Homo sapiens: one gene and its partners. The protein of the gene in region 3 purifies or fractionates together with the protein of the main gene of each other region. This does not show direct contact. Each region holds a gene or a part of one and is shown on either strand. Other genes may lie near its edges.

Region 1 (3,652 bases), on a different chromosome or scaffold from region 3:
GAATAAAATCTTATTTTATATTTTGGCATATACAGTATTTGTTTACATGTCAGTCCCTATACTCCCATCCCATCCCCAGACTACAAGGCATTTGAAATAAGGACTGGGTCTTATTGTGTAAATATAAATACAATTCTCATAAATACATTTACTAATTATTCTTATCTGTTCAGTGAGTTTGCTGCTTGGTAGAATTTATAGGTGCATATTAAAAGTTTACCTTTTTAGTAATTGAGTTTTTCTAAATCATTCACTTTTACTTTATAATTTGTATTAATTTGTTCAAGGTATCTAGCAGAGTGGAAAAGGATTATAATGATCTTTTTGATGGAGATGATATGAGTAATGCTGGTGATTTTCTAAATGACAATGCAGTTGAGATCCCTTCTTTTTCAAAAGGGATTATAAATGATGATGAGGATGATGAAGACCTCATGATGGCTTCAGGTCGTCCTAGACAGCGAAGTCACATCCTAGAAGATGATGAAAACTCAGTTGGTAAGAATTTGACTTTGTGCATGTGATTACCCTGTTGATTAATATTTTAGATTTTTTATTAACACTATTAAAGTCATTATTGAATTTGTAGAATGTAGCTAAGTGGTGCTTAGAGGAAATTTTATAGCATTAAATGACTTTGTTAAAAAAGGTTTCAAATCTATAATCCAAGCTTCTGCTATGGCAGACTAGAAAAAGAGAAAACTAAACCCCAAGCAAATGGAAGGAAATAATACAGAGCAAAATTCAATAAAATTGACAACAGAAAACCTATAGAGAAAGTCAATGAGACCAAAAGCTGGTTCTTTGACAAGATCAATAAGGCCGGGCACGGTGGCTCACGTCTATAATCCCAGCACTTTGGGAGGCTGAAATGGGCAGATCACTTGAGGTCAGGAGTTCAAGACCAGCCTGGCCAACATGGTAAAACCCTGTCTCTACAAAAATACAAAAATTAGCTGGGTGTGGTGGCACGTGCCTGTAATCCCAGCTACTCAGGAGACTGAGGCAGGAAACTCACTTGAACCCAGGAGGTGGAGGTTGCAGTGAGCCGAGATCGCGTCAACTGCATGCCAGCATGGGCAACAGAGCAAGACTCCATCTCCAAAGAAAAGAAAAGATCAATAAAATTAATAAATATCTATCGTGGTTGATCAATAAAGAGAAGACACAAATTACTAACATAGAGAATGAAAGAGAGGTGGGCCATCACTATAGATCTGTAGATTTGTGCTATCCAATATATAGTAGCCACTAGCCACATGTAGCTGTTGAGCACTTGAAATGTGGTTAGTTCAAACTGAGATATGTTATGAGTGCAACCGGATTTTTTTTTTTTTTTTGAGGCGGAGTCTCACTCTGTCACCCAGGCTGGAGTGCGGTGGTGTGATTTTGGCTCACTGCAACCTCCGCCTCCTGGATTCAAGTGATTCTTGTGCCTCAGCCTCCTGAGTAGCTGGGATTACAGGCATGCGCCACCACGCCTGGCTAATTTTTGTATTTTTAGTAGAGATGGGGTTTCACCATGGAGTGCAACCAGATTTTGAAGACAATATGAAAAAAAGAATGTAAAAATCTTGGGAAATTTTTTATATTGAGTACATGTTGAAATGATAATATGTATTTTAAATGCACTATATTATTAAGATTATGGCTGTTTCTTTTTACTCTTTAAACTTTAGAAATATTAGAAAATTTAAAATTACAGCTGTAACTCACATTATATGTCTGTATGGCAGTGCTACTATTAATATCAAAGGCATAATGGCAATATTATGAATAACTTTGTGCCCATAAATTTAACAACTTAAATGAAATAGACGAATTTTCTGAAAGACACAAAGTACCACTGCTAACTCAAGAAGTAATAGATAACCTGAATAGTATTGTATCTATTAAAGAAATTGAGATTGTAATTTAAAATCTTCAAATAGAGTGCTTATTGTAACAACTTACATGCTACAATAACACTTGAACATTATCAAGTAAAATGAAGAAATTGAGATTGTAATTGAAAATCTTCAAATAGAGTGCTTATTGTAACAACTTACATGCTACAATAACACTTGAACATTATCAAGTAAAATGCCAATGTGCAGTGCTATGTTGTGCTTTTTAAAGTCATATAGAGTTTATAGAACAGCAGTCCTCAAATGTTTTGGTCTCAGTAGCCTTTATACTCTAAAAAATTTTGAGGACCCTTCCGAGAGCATTTATTTATACAGAGTTACGGCTATCGTCATTTACATATTAGAAATTAAAATTCAGAAATTTAAAAATATTTATTCACTTAAAAATAACATTAATAAACTCATGTAAACATGAATAGTACTTTTTTATGAAAAACAAAAAAAATTAGTGAGAAGAGTGGCATTGCAATCTTTGTAATGTCTATCATAGAGGATAGCTGGATTCTCTCATCTACTTTTCTGGATTAAGTCTATTGCTATACATTGTTTTTGTTTGAAGTGTATAAAGAAAATTTGGCCTCACATAAATATGTAATTTGAAAAGGGAGAAGTATTTTAAGAAATCTTTTAATAGCACATTCAATTAATTGTGGATATTCTTTGATGTTGCACCAAGACTCAGAAGATGATCGTTTCCTAAAGATTACTTGCAAAGTGTAATCTGAAAACTTCAGTGAACTCTTACGGCTCTGTTATGTTAAGATTCATTGGTCTGGCTGGGAATGGTGGCTCTCACCTGTAATCCCAGCACTTTGGGAGGCCCAGGCAGGAGGATTGCTTGAGGCCAGGAGTTCAAGACCAGCCAGGGCAACATAGTGAGACCTCCTCTCTACAAAAAAACTTTAAAAATTAGCCAGGTGTGGTGACGTGTGCCTGTAATCCCACCTACTTGGGAGGCTGAGGTAGGAGGATCTCTTGAGCCCGAGAGGTCGAGGCTGCAGTGAGCCATGATTGCAACAGTGGGCTCCAGGCAGGGTAACAGAACGAGACCCTGTCTCAGAAAAAAACAAAATAAAATCAAAAAATTCATTGGTCTGACTTGAATGTTGAATGGATTTTTTAAAATCATGTTTAATTTTGTAACATATGAATTGATAATATTGGTTCACTGAAGTTTATAGATCCTCTTTATACTGACACTTTTTATTATCTAATATAAATTATTTGTTTTTGTTTTTAATTAATTATATGTTGTTTTTAATTAATTAATTTTTGTTTTTAGAGATAGCATCTTGCTCTGTCACCTAGGCTGGAGTGCAGTGGTATCATCACACCTCACTGTAACCTTGAACTCCTGGGCTTAAGCAGTTCTCCCACTCAGCCTTCCGGGTAGCTAGGACTACAGATGCATGCCACCATGCCCATCTAATTTTTTATTTTTTGTAGAGATGGAATCTTGCTTTGTTGCCCAGGCTGGTCTTGAAATCCTGGCCTCAAGTGATATTCCCTCCCCAGCCTCCCAAAGTGCTGCAATTACAAGCGTGAGTCACAGCACCTGGCTGTAAATTATATCTGCTAGTGTTGTTACCAATCTCATCAGTAGTTTCTAAGTATTAGAAAGTTGTGAAGCTCATAATGGCAAATAGAAGCTTTCCAATATCTTAATTTTTAATTGAAAGCTCAAATTTCTTGTTTTTATTTTTTGAGAGGGAGTCTTGCTCTGTCACCCAGCCTAGAGTGCAGTG
Region 2 (3,652 bases), on a different chromosome or scaffold from region 3:
CAGTGGGTTAAGATATCCCTCCTTTCCCGGGGAAATCTCTCTGGGCTTGGTCAGCCACTGTGTTGTGACCTAGAGTGTCTGAAGTGCCTGTGGCCTGGAGCTCCGGGGCTGAGAGAGATCTGAGCATAGGAGTTTGGGTCCTGAAGTTCTGAGTGGCCCCTGGAAGTAGATGTGACAGTCGAGTGAGAAAAGGGCTTAGGAAATGGTGCCCTGAGAAATGACAGCCACTGAGGCCGAGGAAAGGGTCTATATCAGAGACAGATGTGTAGAGGGGGCCTGGAGCCAATCCAGGAAATCCAGGAGGAGGGGCAATGCACAGTGCCACATTCTCGAGGGGACAGATAACACCAAAAGCATCAGGAGAGAGAGAAGGGAGATGGGGGAGCCAGAGACAGGAGCCATACCCATTGTCCATGGTCACCTCCTGGGCACCTCCACAGATCAGCTTTTTCATTAAGTGCCTGCTCTGTGCCTATCTGGGGCTGGGGACAGTGCAGTGACCGAGTTAGCCTCAGGTCCTGCCTGCATCGGCCTCACAGTCCAGTTGGAGAGACAGACTTGTCACCATGCAGTGAGGACCCAGAGCAGTCAGAGCTCAGATAGAGGATCCCAGGGGTCTGGAGGTCAGGGAAGGCTTCCTGGAGGAGGGGACATCTGAGTTGGGATTCTCCGGTATGGAAGACAGATGAAAGGGAGTGAGTCTGGAGGGAGAGAGTTCAGGGAGGAGACGGAAAACGATTCTATGTAACCCAAGAGTAGATTCACACCAGTGGGTAGGATGTACTTCCAGGAATAAAATTCCTGACAGAAGTCAGGAAGAGGATATTAGGTTAACATTTACAAACTGAGCATTTTCTCCCTTACTCTGTCATTGCCATTCTCCCAATCCTGTCAGTTGAGTATTTTGACCCCCAGTTTTGATAAGGAAACACCAAGGCTCAGCTTGCGAATCCAGAAAGTGACAGAACCAGGATTTGAGTCCAGGTCTGTGCGACTCCAAAGGTCTTGCTGCCATTTATTAAGGCCGGCCTCGTGTTAAGCCCAGGGAGCTTTGAGAACCTTGAGAATGTGTCTGACCCAGCCTATGGTTCAGGGAGGGCTTCCTGGAGGAAGGGACAGTCCAGCTGAGATCTAAAAGAAGAATTGGGAAAAGACAGGAAGAGAGAAATGGAGGGGGCCAGGTGCGGTGGCTCACACCTGTAATCCCAGCACTTTGGGAGGCTGAGGCGGGTGGATCACGTGAGGTCAGGAGTTCGAGACCAGCCTGGTCAACATGGTGAAACCCTGTCTCTACCAAAATATACAAAAATTAGCCAGGTGTGGTGGTATGTGCCTGTAGTCCCAGCTACATGGGAGGCTGAGGTGAGAGAATCACTTGAACCCGGGAAGCGGAGGTTGCAGTGAGCCGAGATTGTGCCACTACAGTCCACCTGGGACAGCATGGCGAGACTCCATCTCAAAAAAAAAAAAAAAAAAAAAAGAAAGAAAAAGAGGGAAAGAAGAGAGAGAAGAGAAAGAAAGAAAAGAAAAGAAAGAAAGAAAGACCATTGTCCATATTCTTTTAAGTAATAGAGAAAGTAGGAATACTGACTTACTCATTTTATGAGTCCAATAGAATACTGATATCAAAGCCTGATAAAGTCATTACAGAAAAGGAAAATTATAGGTTAAGATCTCTCATGAAGTTGGAGTTAGGCCAGACACGGTGGCTCACACCTGTAGTCCCAGTACTTTGGGAGGCCAAGGTGAATGGATCACTTGAGGTCAGGAGTTTGAGACCAGCCTGGCCAACATGGTGAAATCCCGTCTCTACTAAAAATACAAAAATTAGTCGGACATGGTGGTGGGCGCCTGTAATCCCAGCTACTTGGGAGGCTCAGGCAGGAGAATCACTCGAACCCGGGAGGCAGAGGTTGCAGTGAGCCAAGATCAAGCCACTGCACTCCAGCCTGGGCAACAAGAGCAAGACTCTGTATCAAAAAAAAAAGCACCAAAGTCTCATGAAGCAGCACTCAGAGGGTCTCCTCTCTGCCTTAGTCACACCACACTGGAGAGTGTTTCCATGGCCACTGCATTGCAGAGCGGAGATCATGCCACTGCACTCCAGCCTTGGGGACAAAGCGAGACTCCGTCTAAAAAAAATAAAAAAAAAAAACAGCAGAACATAGAATAATAAAAACTGCATACAAATCCCCTGTAGAAATGGGGGAGCGGAGAAAGGGCAGGCCGCATGGGGGCAGAGTGCTCACCTTTCATAGTGGGGCTGGATTATGAGTAGGTAACGATGGCGTAGATCTGAACAAACCTCCAGTTGAAGAGCTCAGAAATGAGTGAGGTATGCTTACTATGGGCTGTCCAGGAGATGGCGCTAGGGGAAAACAGGCTGGCGACCGCAGTAGTTGAGGGTTCCTCTGAGGAGGGGACTTTGGCTTTACATTTTATAGTTTGAGTACTTTGTTTTCTTGCCATGTGTTACTTTTATTTGCGGCAGGAGTTGGGGGTGGGGCGACGGGGAATGGTAGGTTTGTTCTTTTCTTTTCTTTTTTTGAGACAGTCTTGCTCTTGTTGCCCAGGCTGGAGTGCAGTGGCGTGGTCTTGGCTCACGGCAACCTCCACCTCCTGGGTTCAAGCGATTCTCCTGTCTCAGCCTCCCGAGTAGGTGGGATTACAGGGGCCTCCCACCACGCCCCGCTAATTTTTTGTATTTTTACTGGAGATGGGTTTCACCATGTTGGCCAGGCTGGTCTTGAACTCCTTACCTCATGATCTGCCTGTCTCAGCCTCCCAAAGCGCTGGGATTAAAGGCCTGAGCTACCGCGCCCAGCCAGTTTGTTCTTTTCTTCTCACCAATTCCTTCTGATTGCTGCGTGGGGGACAATTGCAGAGGGGTGAGGCTGGGGCCGGCAGGTGGGAAGGAGGCTGGAGGCGGGACTCACTTATGTGTTAAGCTTAGATCTAATGAGCATCATGCGTGTGCCTGGCCTGGCACTGGGCAGTGCTGGGGACACAGCAGTGACTGTGACAGCCCTGGGCCCCACCCTTGTGAGGCTTACAGGACAGTGGGGAGACTGATTGCAGACAGGTAACTGGATAGCCACTATTCCTGGTTGTGATAGGCACTCAGAAGGGGATAGACAGGCTGTATTCCTCCTATTCAGGAGGTCAGGGAGGAGAACGTTGGTCAGAGCTGGGATGGATCCTGGACCAGGACAGCAGAAGGGAATCCACTGGGAGAGATGTTCAAGATGCAGAATGGACCCGACACGCAGCTGAGAGGCTGTGGGAGAAGGGGAACAGCTGGGCTGAGGCCCCCGTCTCTAGCCAGGGGACAGGTGTGGGGCCAGGTGCTGGGTTCAGGTTTGGATGTGCTGAGTGTGAGAGGTCTAGGAGACATCTGGAGCGTGTTGACCCCCGCAAGTCTGGTGAGTCCTCCAGCTTAGCCTGTCCCGGCCCCTCACAGCTGTCCCTTCTAGAATCACAGCCCTGTGATTCATCCCCACCTGGGCCTTGTTTCCTGAACCCCACATCTGACCGCTGGCCCGAGGGAGAATGCCGTCGGCCCCTGCTCTGAAAGCCCTGAAAGCCCATGCCTGCGTGCACACACGCGTGCACACACACACACACCCTCTTGATTTGATTTCCTGTGGCCTGG
Region 3 (3,652 bases):
CACCGTGCTGGAGATGGGGGCTGCCCGCCACTTCCTGCGCATGCAGCAGCTGGCCAAGACCCAGGAGGAGCGCGCACAGCTCCTGCAGCCCACGCTGGAGATCAACCCCAGGTGAGGCCACGCTCCTGGCTCTTCCAGCCTGTGGGATTCCCCAGAATCCTGTGTGTGGTGTTCTTTTGTTGTGGAATGTGACACAGAAGAAAAGTGCGTGAGGCCTGTGGACATGTGGGTAACTATAAGGAGCTGTATGCAGTTTAGGCTGCACCCATGTGAAATGGAACCTGGCCAGCCCCTTACCATCCCCAGGTGTCACCTGGGAGGTTAGCCACATCCCAGCCTGTGACCATGTCCTCGTTTTGCTTTATGGCTTTGCCACCTGTGCGTGTCCTGGACATGCTCAGTTTTGCCTGTTTTGAGCTTTGTACGTGGATCTTGGTGTTTGCTGAAGTCTCACGTTGCTCACTTGGCATGAGGGTTGCCCATGCAGAGGGGCTGCCACAAGTTCATTTTCATAGCCGAATAATGTCCGCTGCAGAAACCCACCTCGGCACAGCAGACTGCTCCGTTCTGCTCTGCTGGGCCTCCGGTGGTTCTTGGTCAGAAGTTGTGGAGAGCCAGGCTGCTCTGAGTATTCTTGTCCACGTGTCTGGGGCTTGTGTGGGTTTCTCTGTGGCCCCGGTGGTGGGAGCTGCTTCCAGGGTGCACCGAGAACCCCCCAGCCCTGACAGTGGCTGAGCCGTAAGATTTCCCTCGTTTCTTCCTGTTGTTCTTTATATGCCCTTTATCTGTTGTAAATGTCTTTTCACCTGCCTTTAGGTATCTTTTGAGTTTCTTTCTTTTTACAGTATCACTTCTTTGCACCCATGAATGTGATCTATTTAGGTCTTTAACATCCTTTGGTACCTTACATTCTCTGTAGGGTTCTGGTACCATTTTTAAAGAATTATTCTTTGATGTGTCTTATGGGGTATTTTAAAATTTCATTTTCTAACTTGTATATGAACTAACTTGTATATGAAGTTTCTTTTTTGGGGGAAATTTTGAATGTAGCAATTTTTTAAAAAATGAAGTTACATAAACATGTTACCAAAAATAGAAAACAGCAAAAAGGAAATCAAAATCCATAGACTTACCACCCCCCCCACAATGTAGCCTAAGTAGTATTTTAATTTTTGAGACAGGGTCTCACTCTGTCCCCCAGGTTGGAGTGCAGTGGGGCAATCTCAGCTCACTGCAACTTCTACCTCCTGGCCTCAAACAATCCACCTGCCTTAGCCTCCCGAAGTGCTGGGATTACAAGTGTGGGCTACCACCCCCAGCCAGTTTTTGTTTTGTTCTTTAGTACATGTCTAGTTTTTTTCTTTTGTCATTTTACAACCATAACTTTTAAAATTATACTGGAGGCGAGGGAGATGCATCTTCCTAGCCATGGCACTCCTGGGGAAAGGCTGACTTGGCTTATGGCTGTCAGTGCACAGCAGCGCCAGTATGCAGAATGCCTGTGCCTCTGCTGGAGCAGCTCAGTGAGGCGGACACCAGGTCACTTTAACTAGTTTTGGTGGCAAACTAGTTTTGTGAGATAGCTGCAGAAGTGCTCGTTTCTGTCTGTTGCCACTTCACTTTTGGAGACAGGGTCTTGCTCTGTCACCTAGGCTGGAGTGTACCAGTGGCGCCATCAGAGCTCACTGCAGCCTTGGCCTCCCAAAGTGGTGGGATTACAGGCGAGAGCCACTGTGCCCAGCCAGCTTCACTTTCATTTGTTTTAAAATTTGGTGTTCTGTCCACATAGTTCAGAATTCAAAACTGCTTACAGGGGAAAATTTCCTCCTACCTGTGTCCCCAGTGCAGCCAGCATTAGGGCTTTTGTATTTCTGCAGAGATTATGTGCATTTGTGGGCAGCTGCGCCCGTGGGCTTCCAAGGGGGAACTTGCTGTGCAGTGGGTCCTTGCCTTGCTTTTCTCCCTTAGGGTAACTAGGTGACCTCCACATTAGCATATTAAGAATGTCCTTTTTTTCCAGCTACGTAGACTAGAAATGTGAGGATGTGCATTTGAAGTGTTTCCTCTGTTAGGTTGGGTGCGGTGCCTCACGCCTGTAATCCCAACATTTTGGGAGGCCTAGGCGGGTGGATCACTTGAGGTCAGGAGTTCGAGACCTCATCTCTACTAAAAATACAAAAACTAGCTGGGGGTGGTGGTGGGTGCCTGTAATCCCAGTTACTTGGGAGGCTGAGGCAAGAGAACCTCTTGAAACCAGGAGGCTGCGGTGAGCCAAGATCATGCCATTTCACTCTAGCTTGGGTGAAGGAGTGAGAGTCTATCTATCTATCTATCTATCTATCTATCTAAAAAAAAAAGTGTTTAAAGGGATGCAGTTAGGAAATGGAATGGCTGAGTCTCAGCATATCATCCACATGTGGTTTTCCCGACTCCAGTTGTCCTCTGGAGAGGTTGTACAAATTTACAGTTCCCCAGAGCCCTCGGTTTTATCAGACTTCTAAGTGAAAAATTATAATATTCATGTTAAGGTTAAATACTACATGATGCTTTTTCCTATGCAGAAAAAAATATTGTTCTGACGTCAAATATGTCAATCATTCTTTACTTTTTGGTTTGTGGTTTTGCTTGGAAAGGCTTTCCCCTTCTGAGATGATGAAACATTTCTTCCCTAGAATTGTGCTTGTCATCTTTGATCCCTCTGGAATTTACTCTGGTCTAAATGGTTTTCTGCATGGCTCCCAGTCATCCCAGTGCTGCTGGATGGAGTGATCTGTCTCCTCCCTCTTCTGTGAAATACTGTCCTCATCAGACACTCAGTGTCCACCCTCGTTACATGGAGTTGTTTGCCTTCCCCCTTTCCAGACCTAAACTGTTTTATTTACTAGAGCCCTATAATATGTTTCAACATGTGGGTCTTACTCCCTTCTCTTTTATTATTTATCTAGGAACCAAGGCATGTCTTCACGTACTAAGCTCCTTTTGTCCCTTTAGTGTATATTAATCTTGGAGTTTGGCTACCTTACAGCATTTTCTAATACTGACACTCCTGATTCTCTTGGGTTTTCTGGGTATATAATGATATTATCTATAAATGATCATTAACATACCTTATTTAAAAAACTACAGACAGTCTTACTGTGCTTCTTTAAATATCCTGATAATCCCAAAACATGAAGGGAGGGTCACAGCACGTGGTACTGAGCTGCTTTTTCTGGTGGGTTCTGTGTTGCAGGCACGCGCTCATCAAGAAGCTGAATCAGCTGCGCGCAAGCGAGCCTGGCCTGGCTCAGCTGCTGGTGGATCAGGTGAGTGCAGCAGCTTAGGATGACTGCAGGGACCCAGGCTACCAGCCCTGCCAGCCTGCCTTCAGGGTGGAACAGCGGTTTCCTCTAAAATCCTGTCTTTTTGTTTGTTTGTTTGTTTTTTGAGATGGAGTGTTGCTCTGTTGCCAGGCTGGAGTGCAGTGGCGCGATCTTGGCTCACTACAACCTCTGCCTCCCGGGTTCAAGCAATTCCCCTGCCTCAGCCTCCCGAGTAGCTGGGACTACAGGCATGCGCCTGGCTAATTTTGTATTTTAGTAGAGATGGGGTTTTCACCATCTTGGCCAGGATGGTCTCAATCTCCTGACCTCGTGAGCCACCGTGCCCAGCC

Evidence for each region.
Region 1: the proteins of TRAP1 (region 3) and WDHD1 fractionate together in Homo sapiens (co-fractionation; one large-scale study listed by BioGRID). This does not show direct contact.
Region 2: the proteins of TRAP1 (region 3) and OPA3 purify together in Homo sapiens (co-immunoprecipitation; one large-scale study listed by IntAct). This does not show direct contact.

The regions. Positions count from the first base shown.
Region 1 is NC_000014.9:54,992,449-54,996,100, reverse strand, and holds part of WDHD1 (WD repeat and HMG-box DNA-binding protein 1), read left to right. Parts: intron 1-287; coding exon 288-498; intron 499-3,652. UniProt on the Homo sapiens protein: Core replisome component that acts as a replication initiation factor. Binds directly to the CMG complex and functions as a hub to recruit additional proteins to the replication fork.
Region 2 is NC_000019.10:45,557,226-45,560,877, reverse strand, and holds part of OPA3 (optic atrophy 3 protein), read left to right. Parts: intron 1-3,652. UniProt on the Homo sapiens protein: May play some role in mitochondrial processes.
Region 3 is NC_000016.10:3,658,446-3,662,097, reverse strand, and holds part of TRAP1 (heat shock protein 75 kDa, mitochondrial isoform 1 precursor), read left to right. Parts: coding exon 1-111; intron 112-3,232; coding exon 3,233-3,305; intron 3,306-3,652.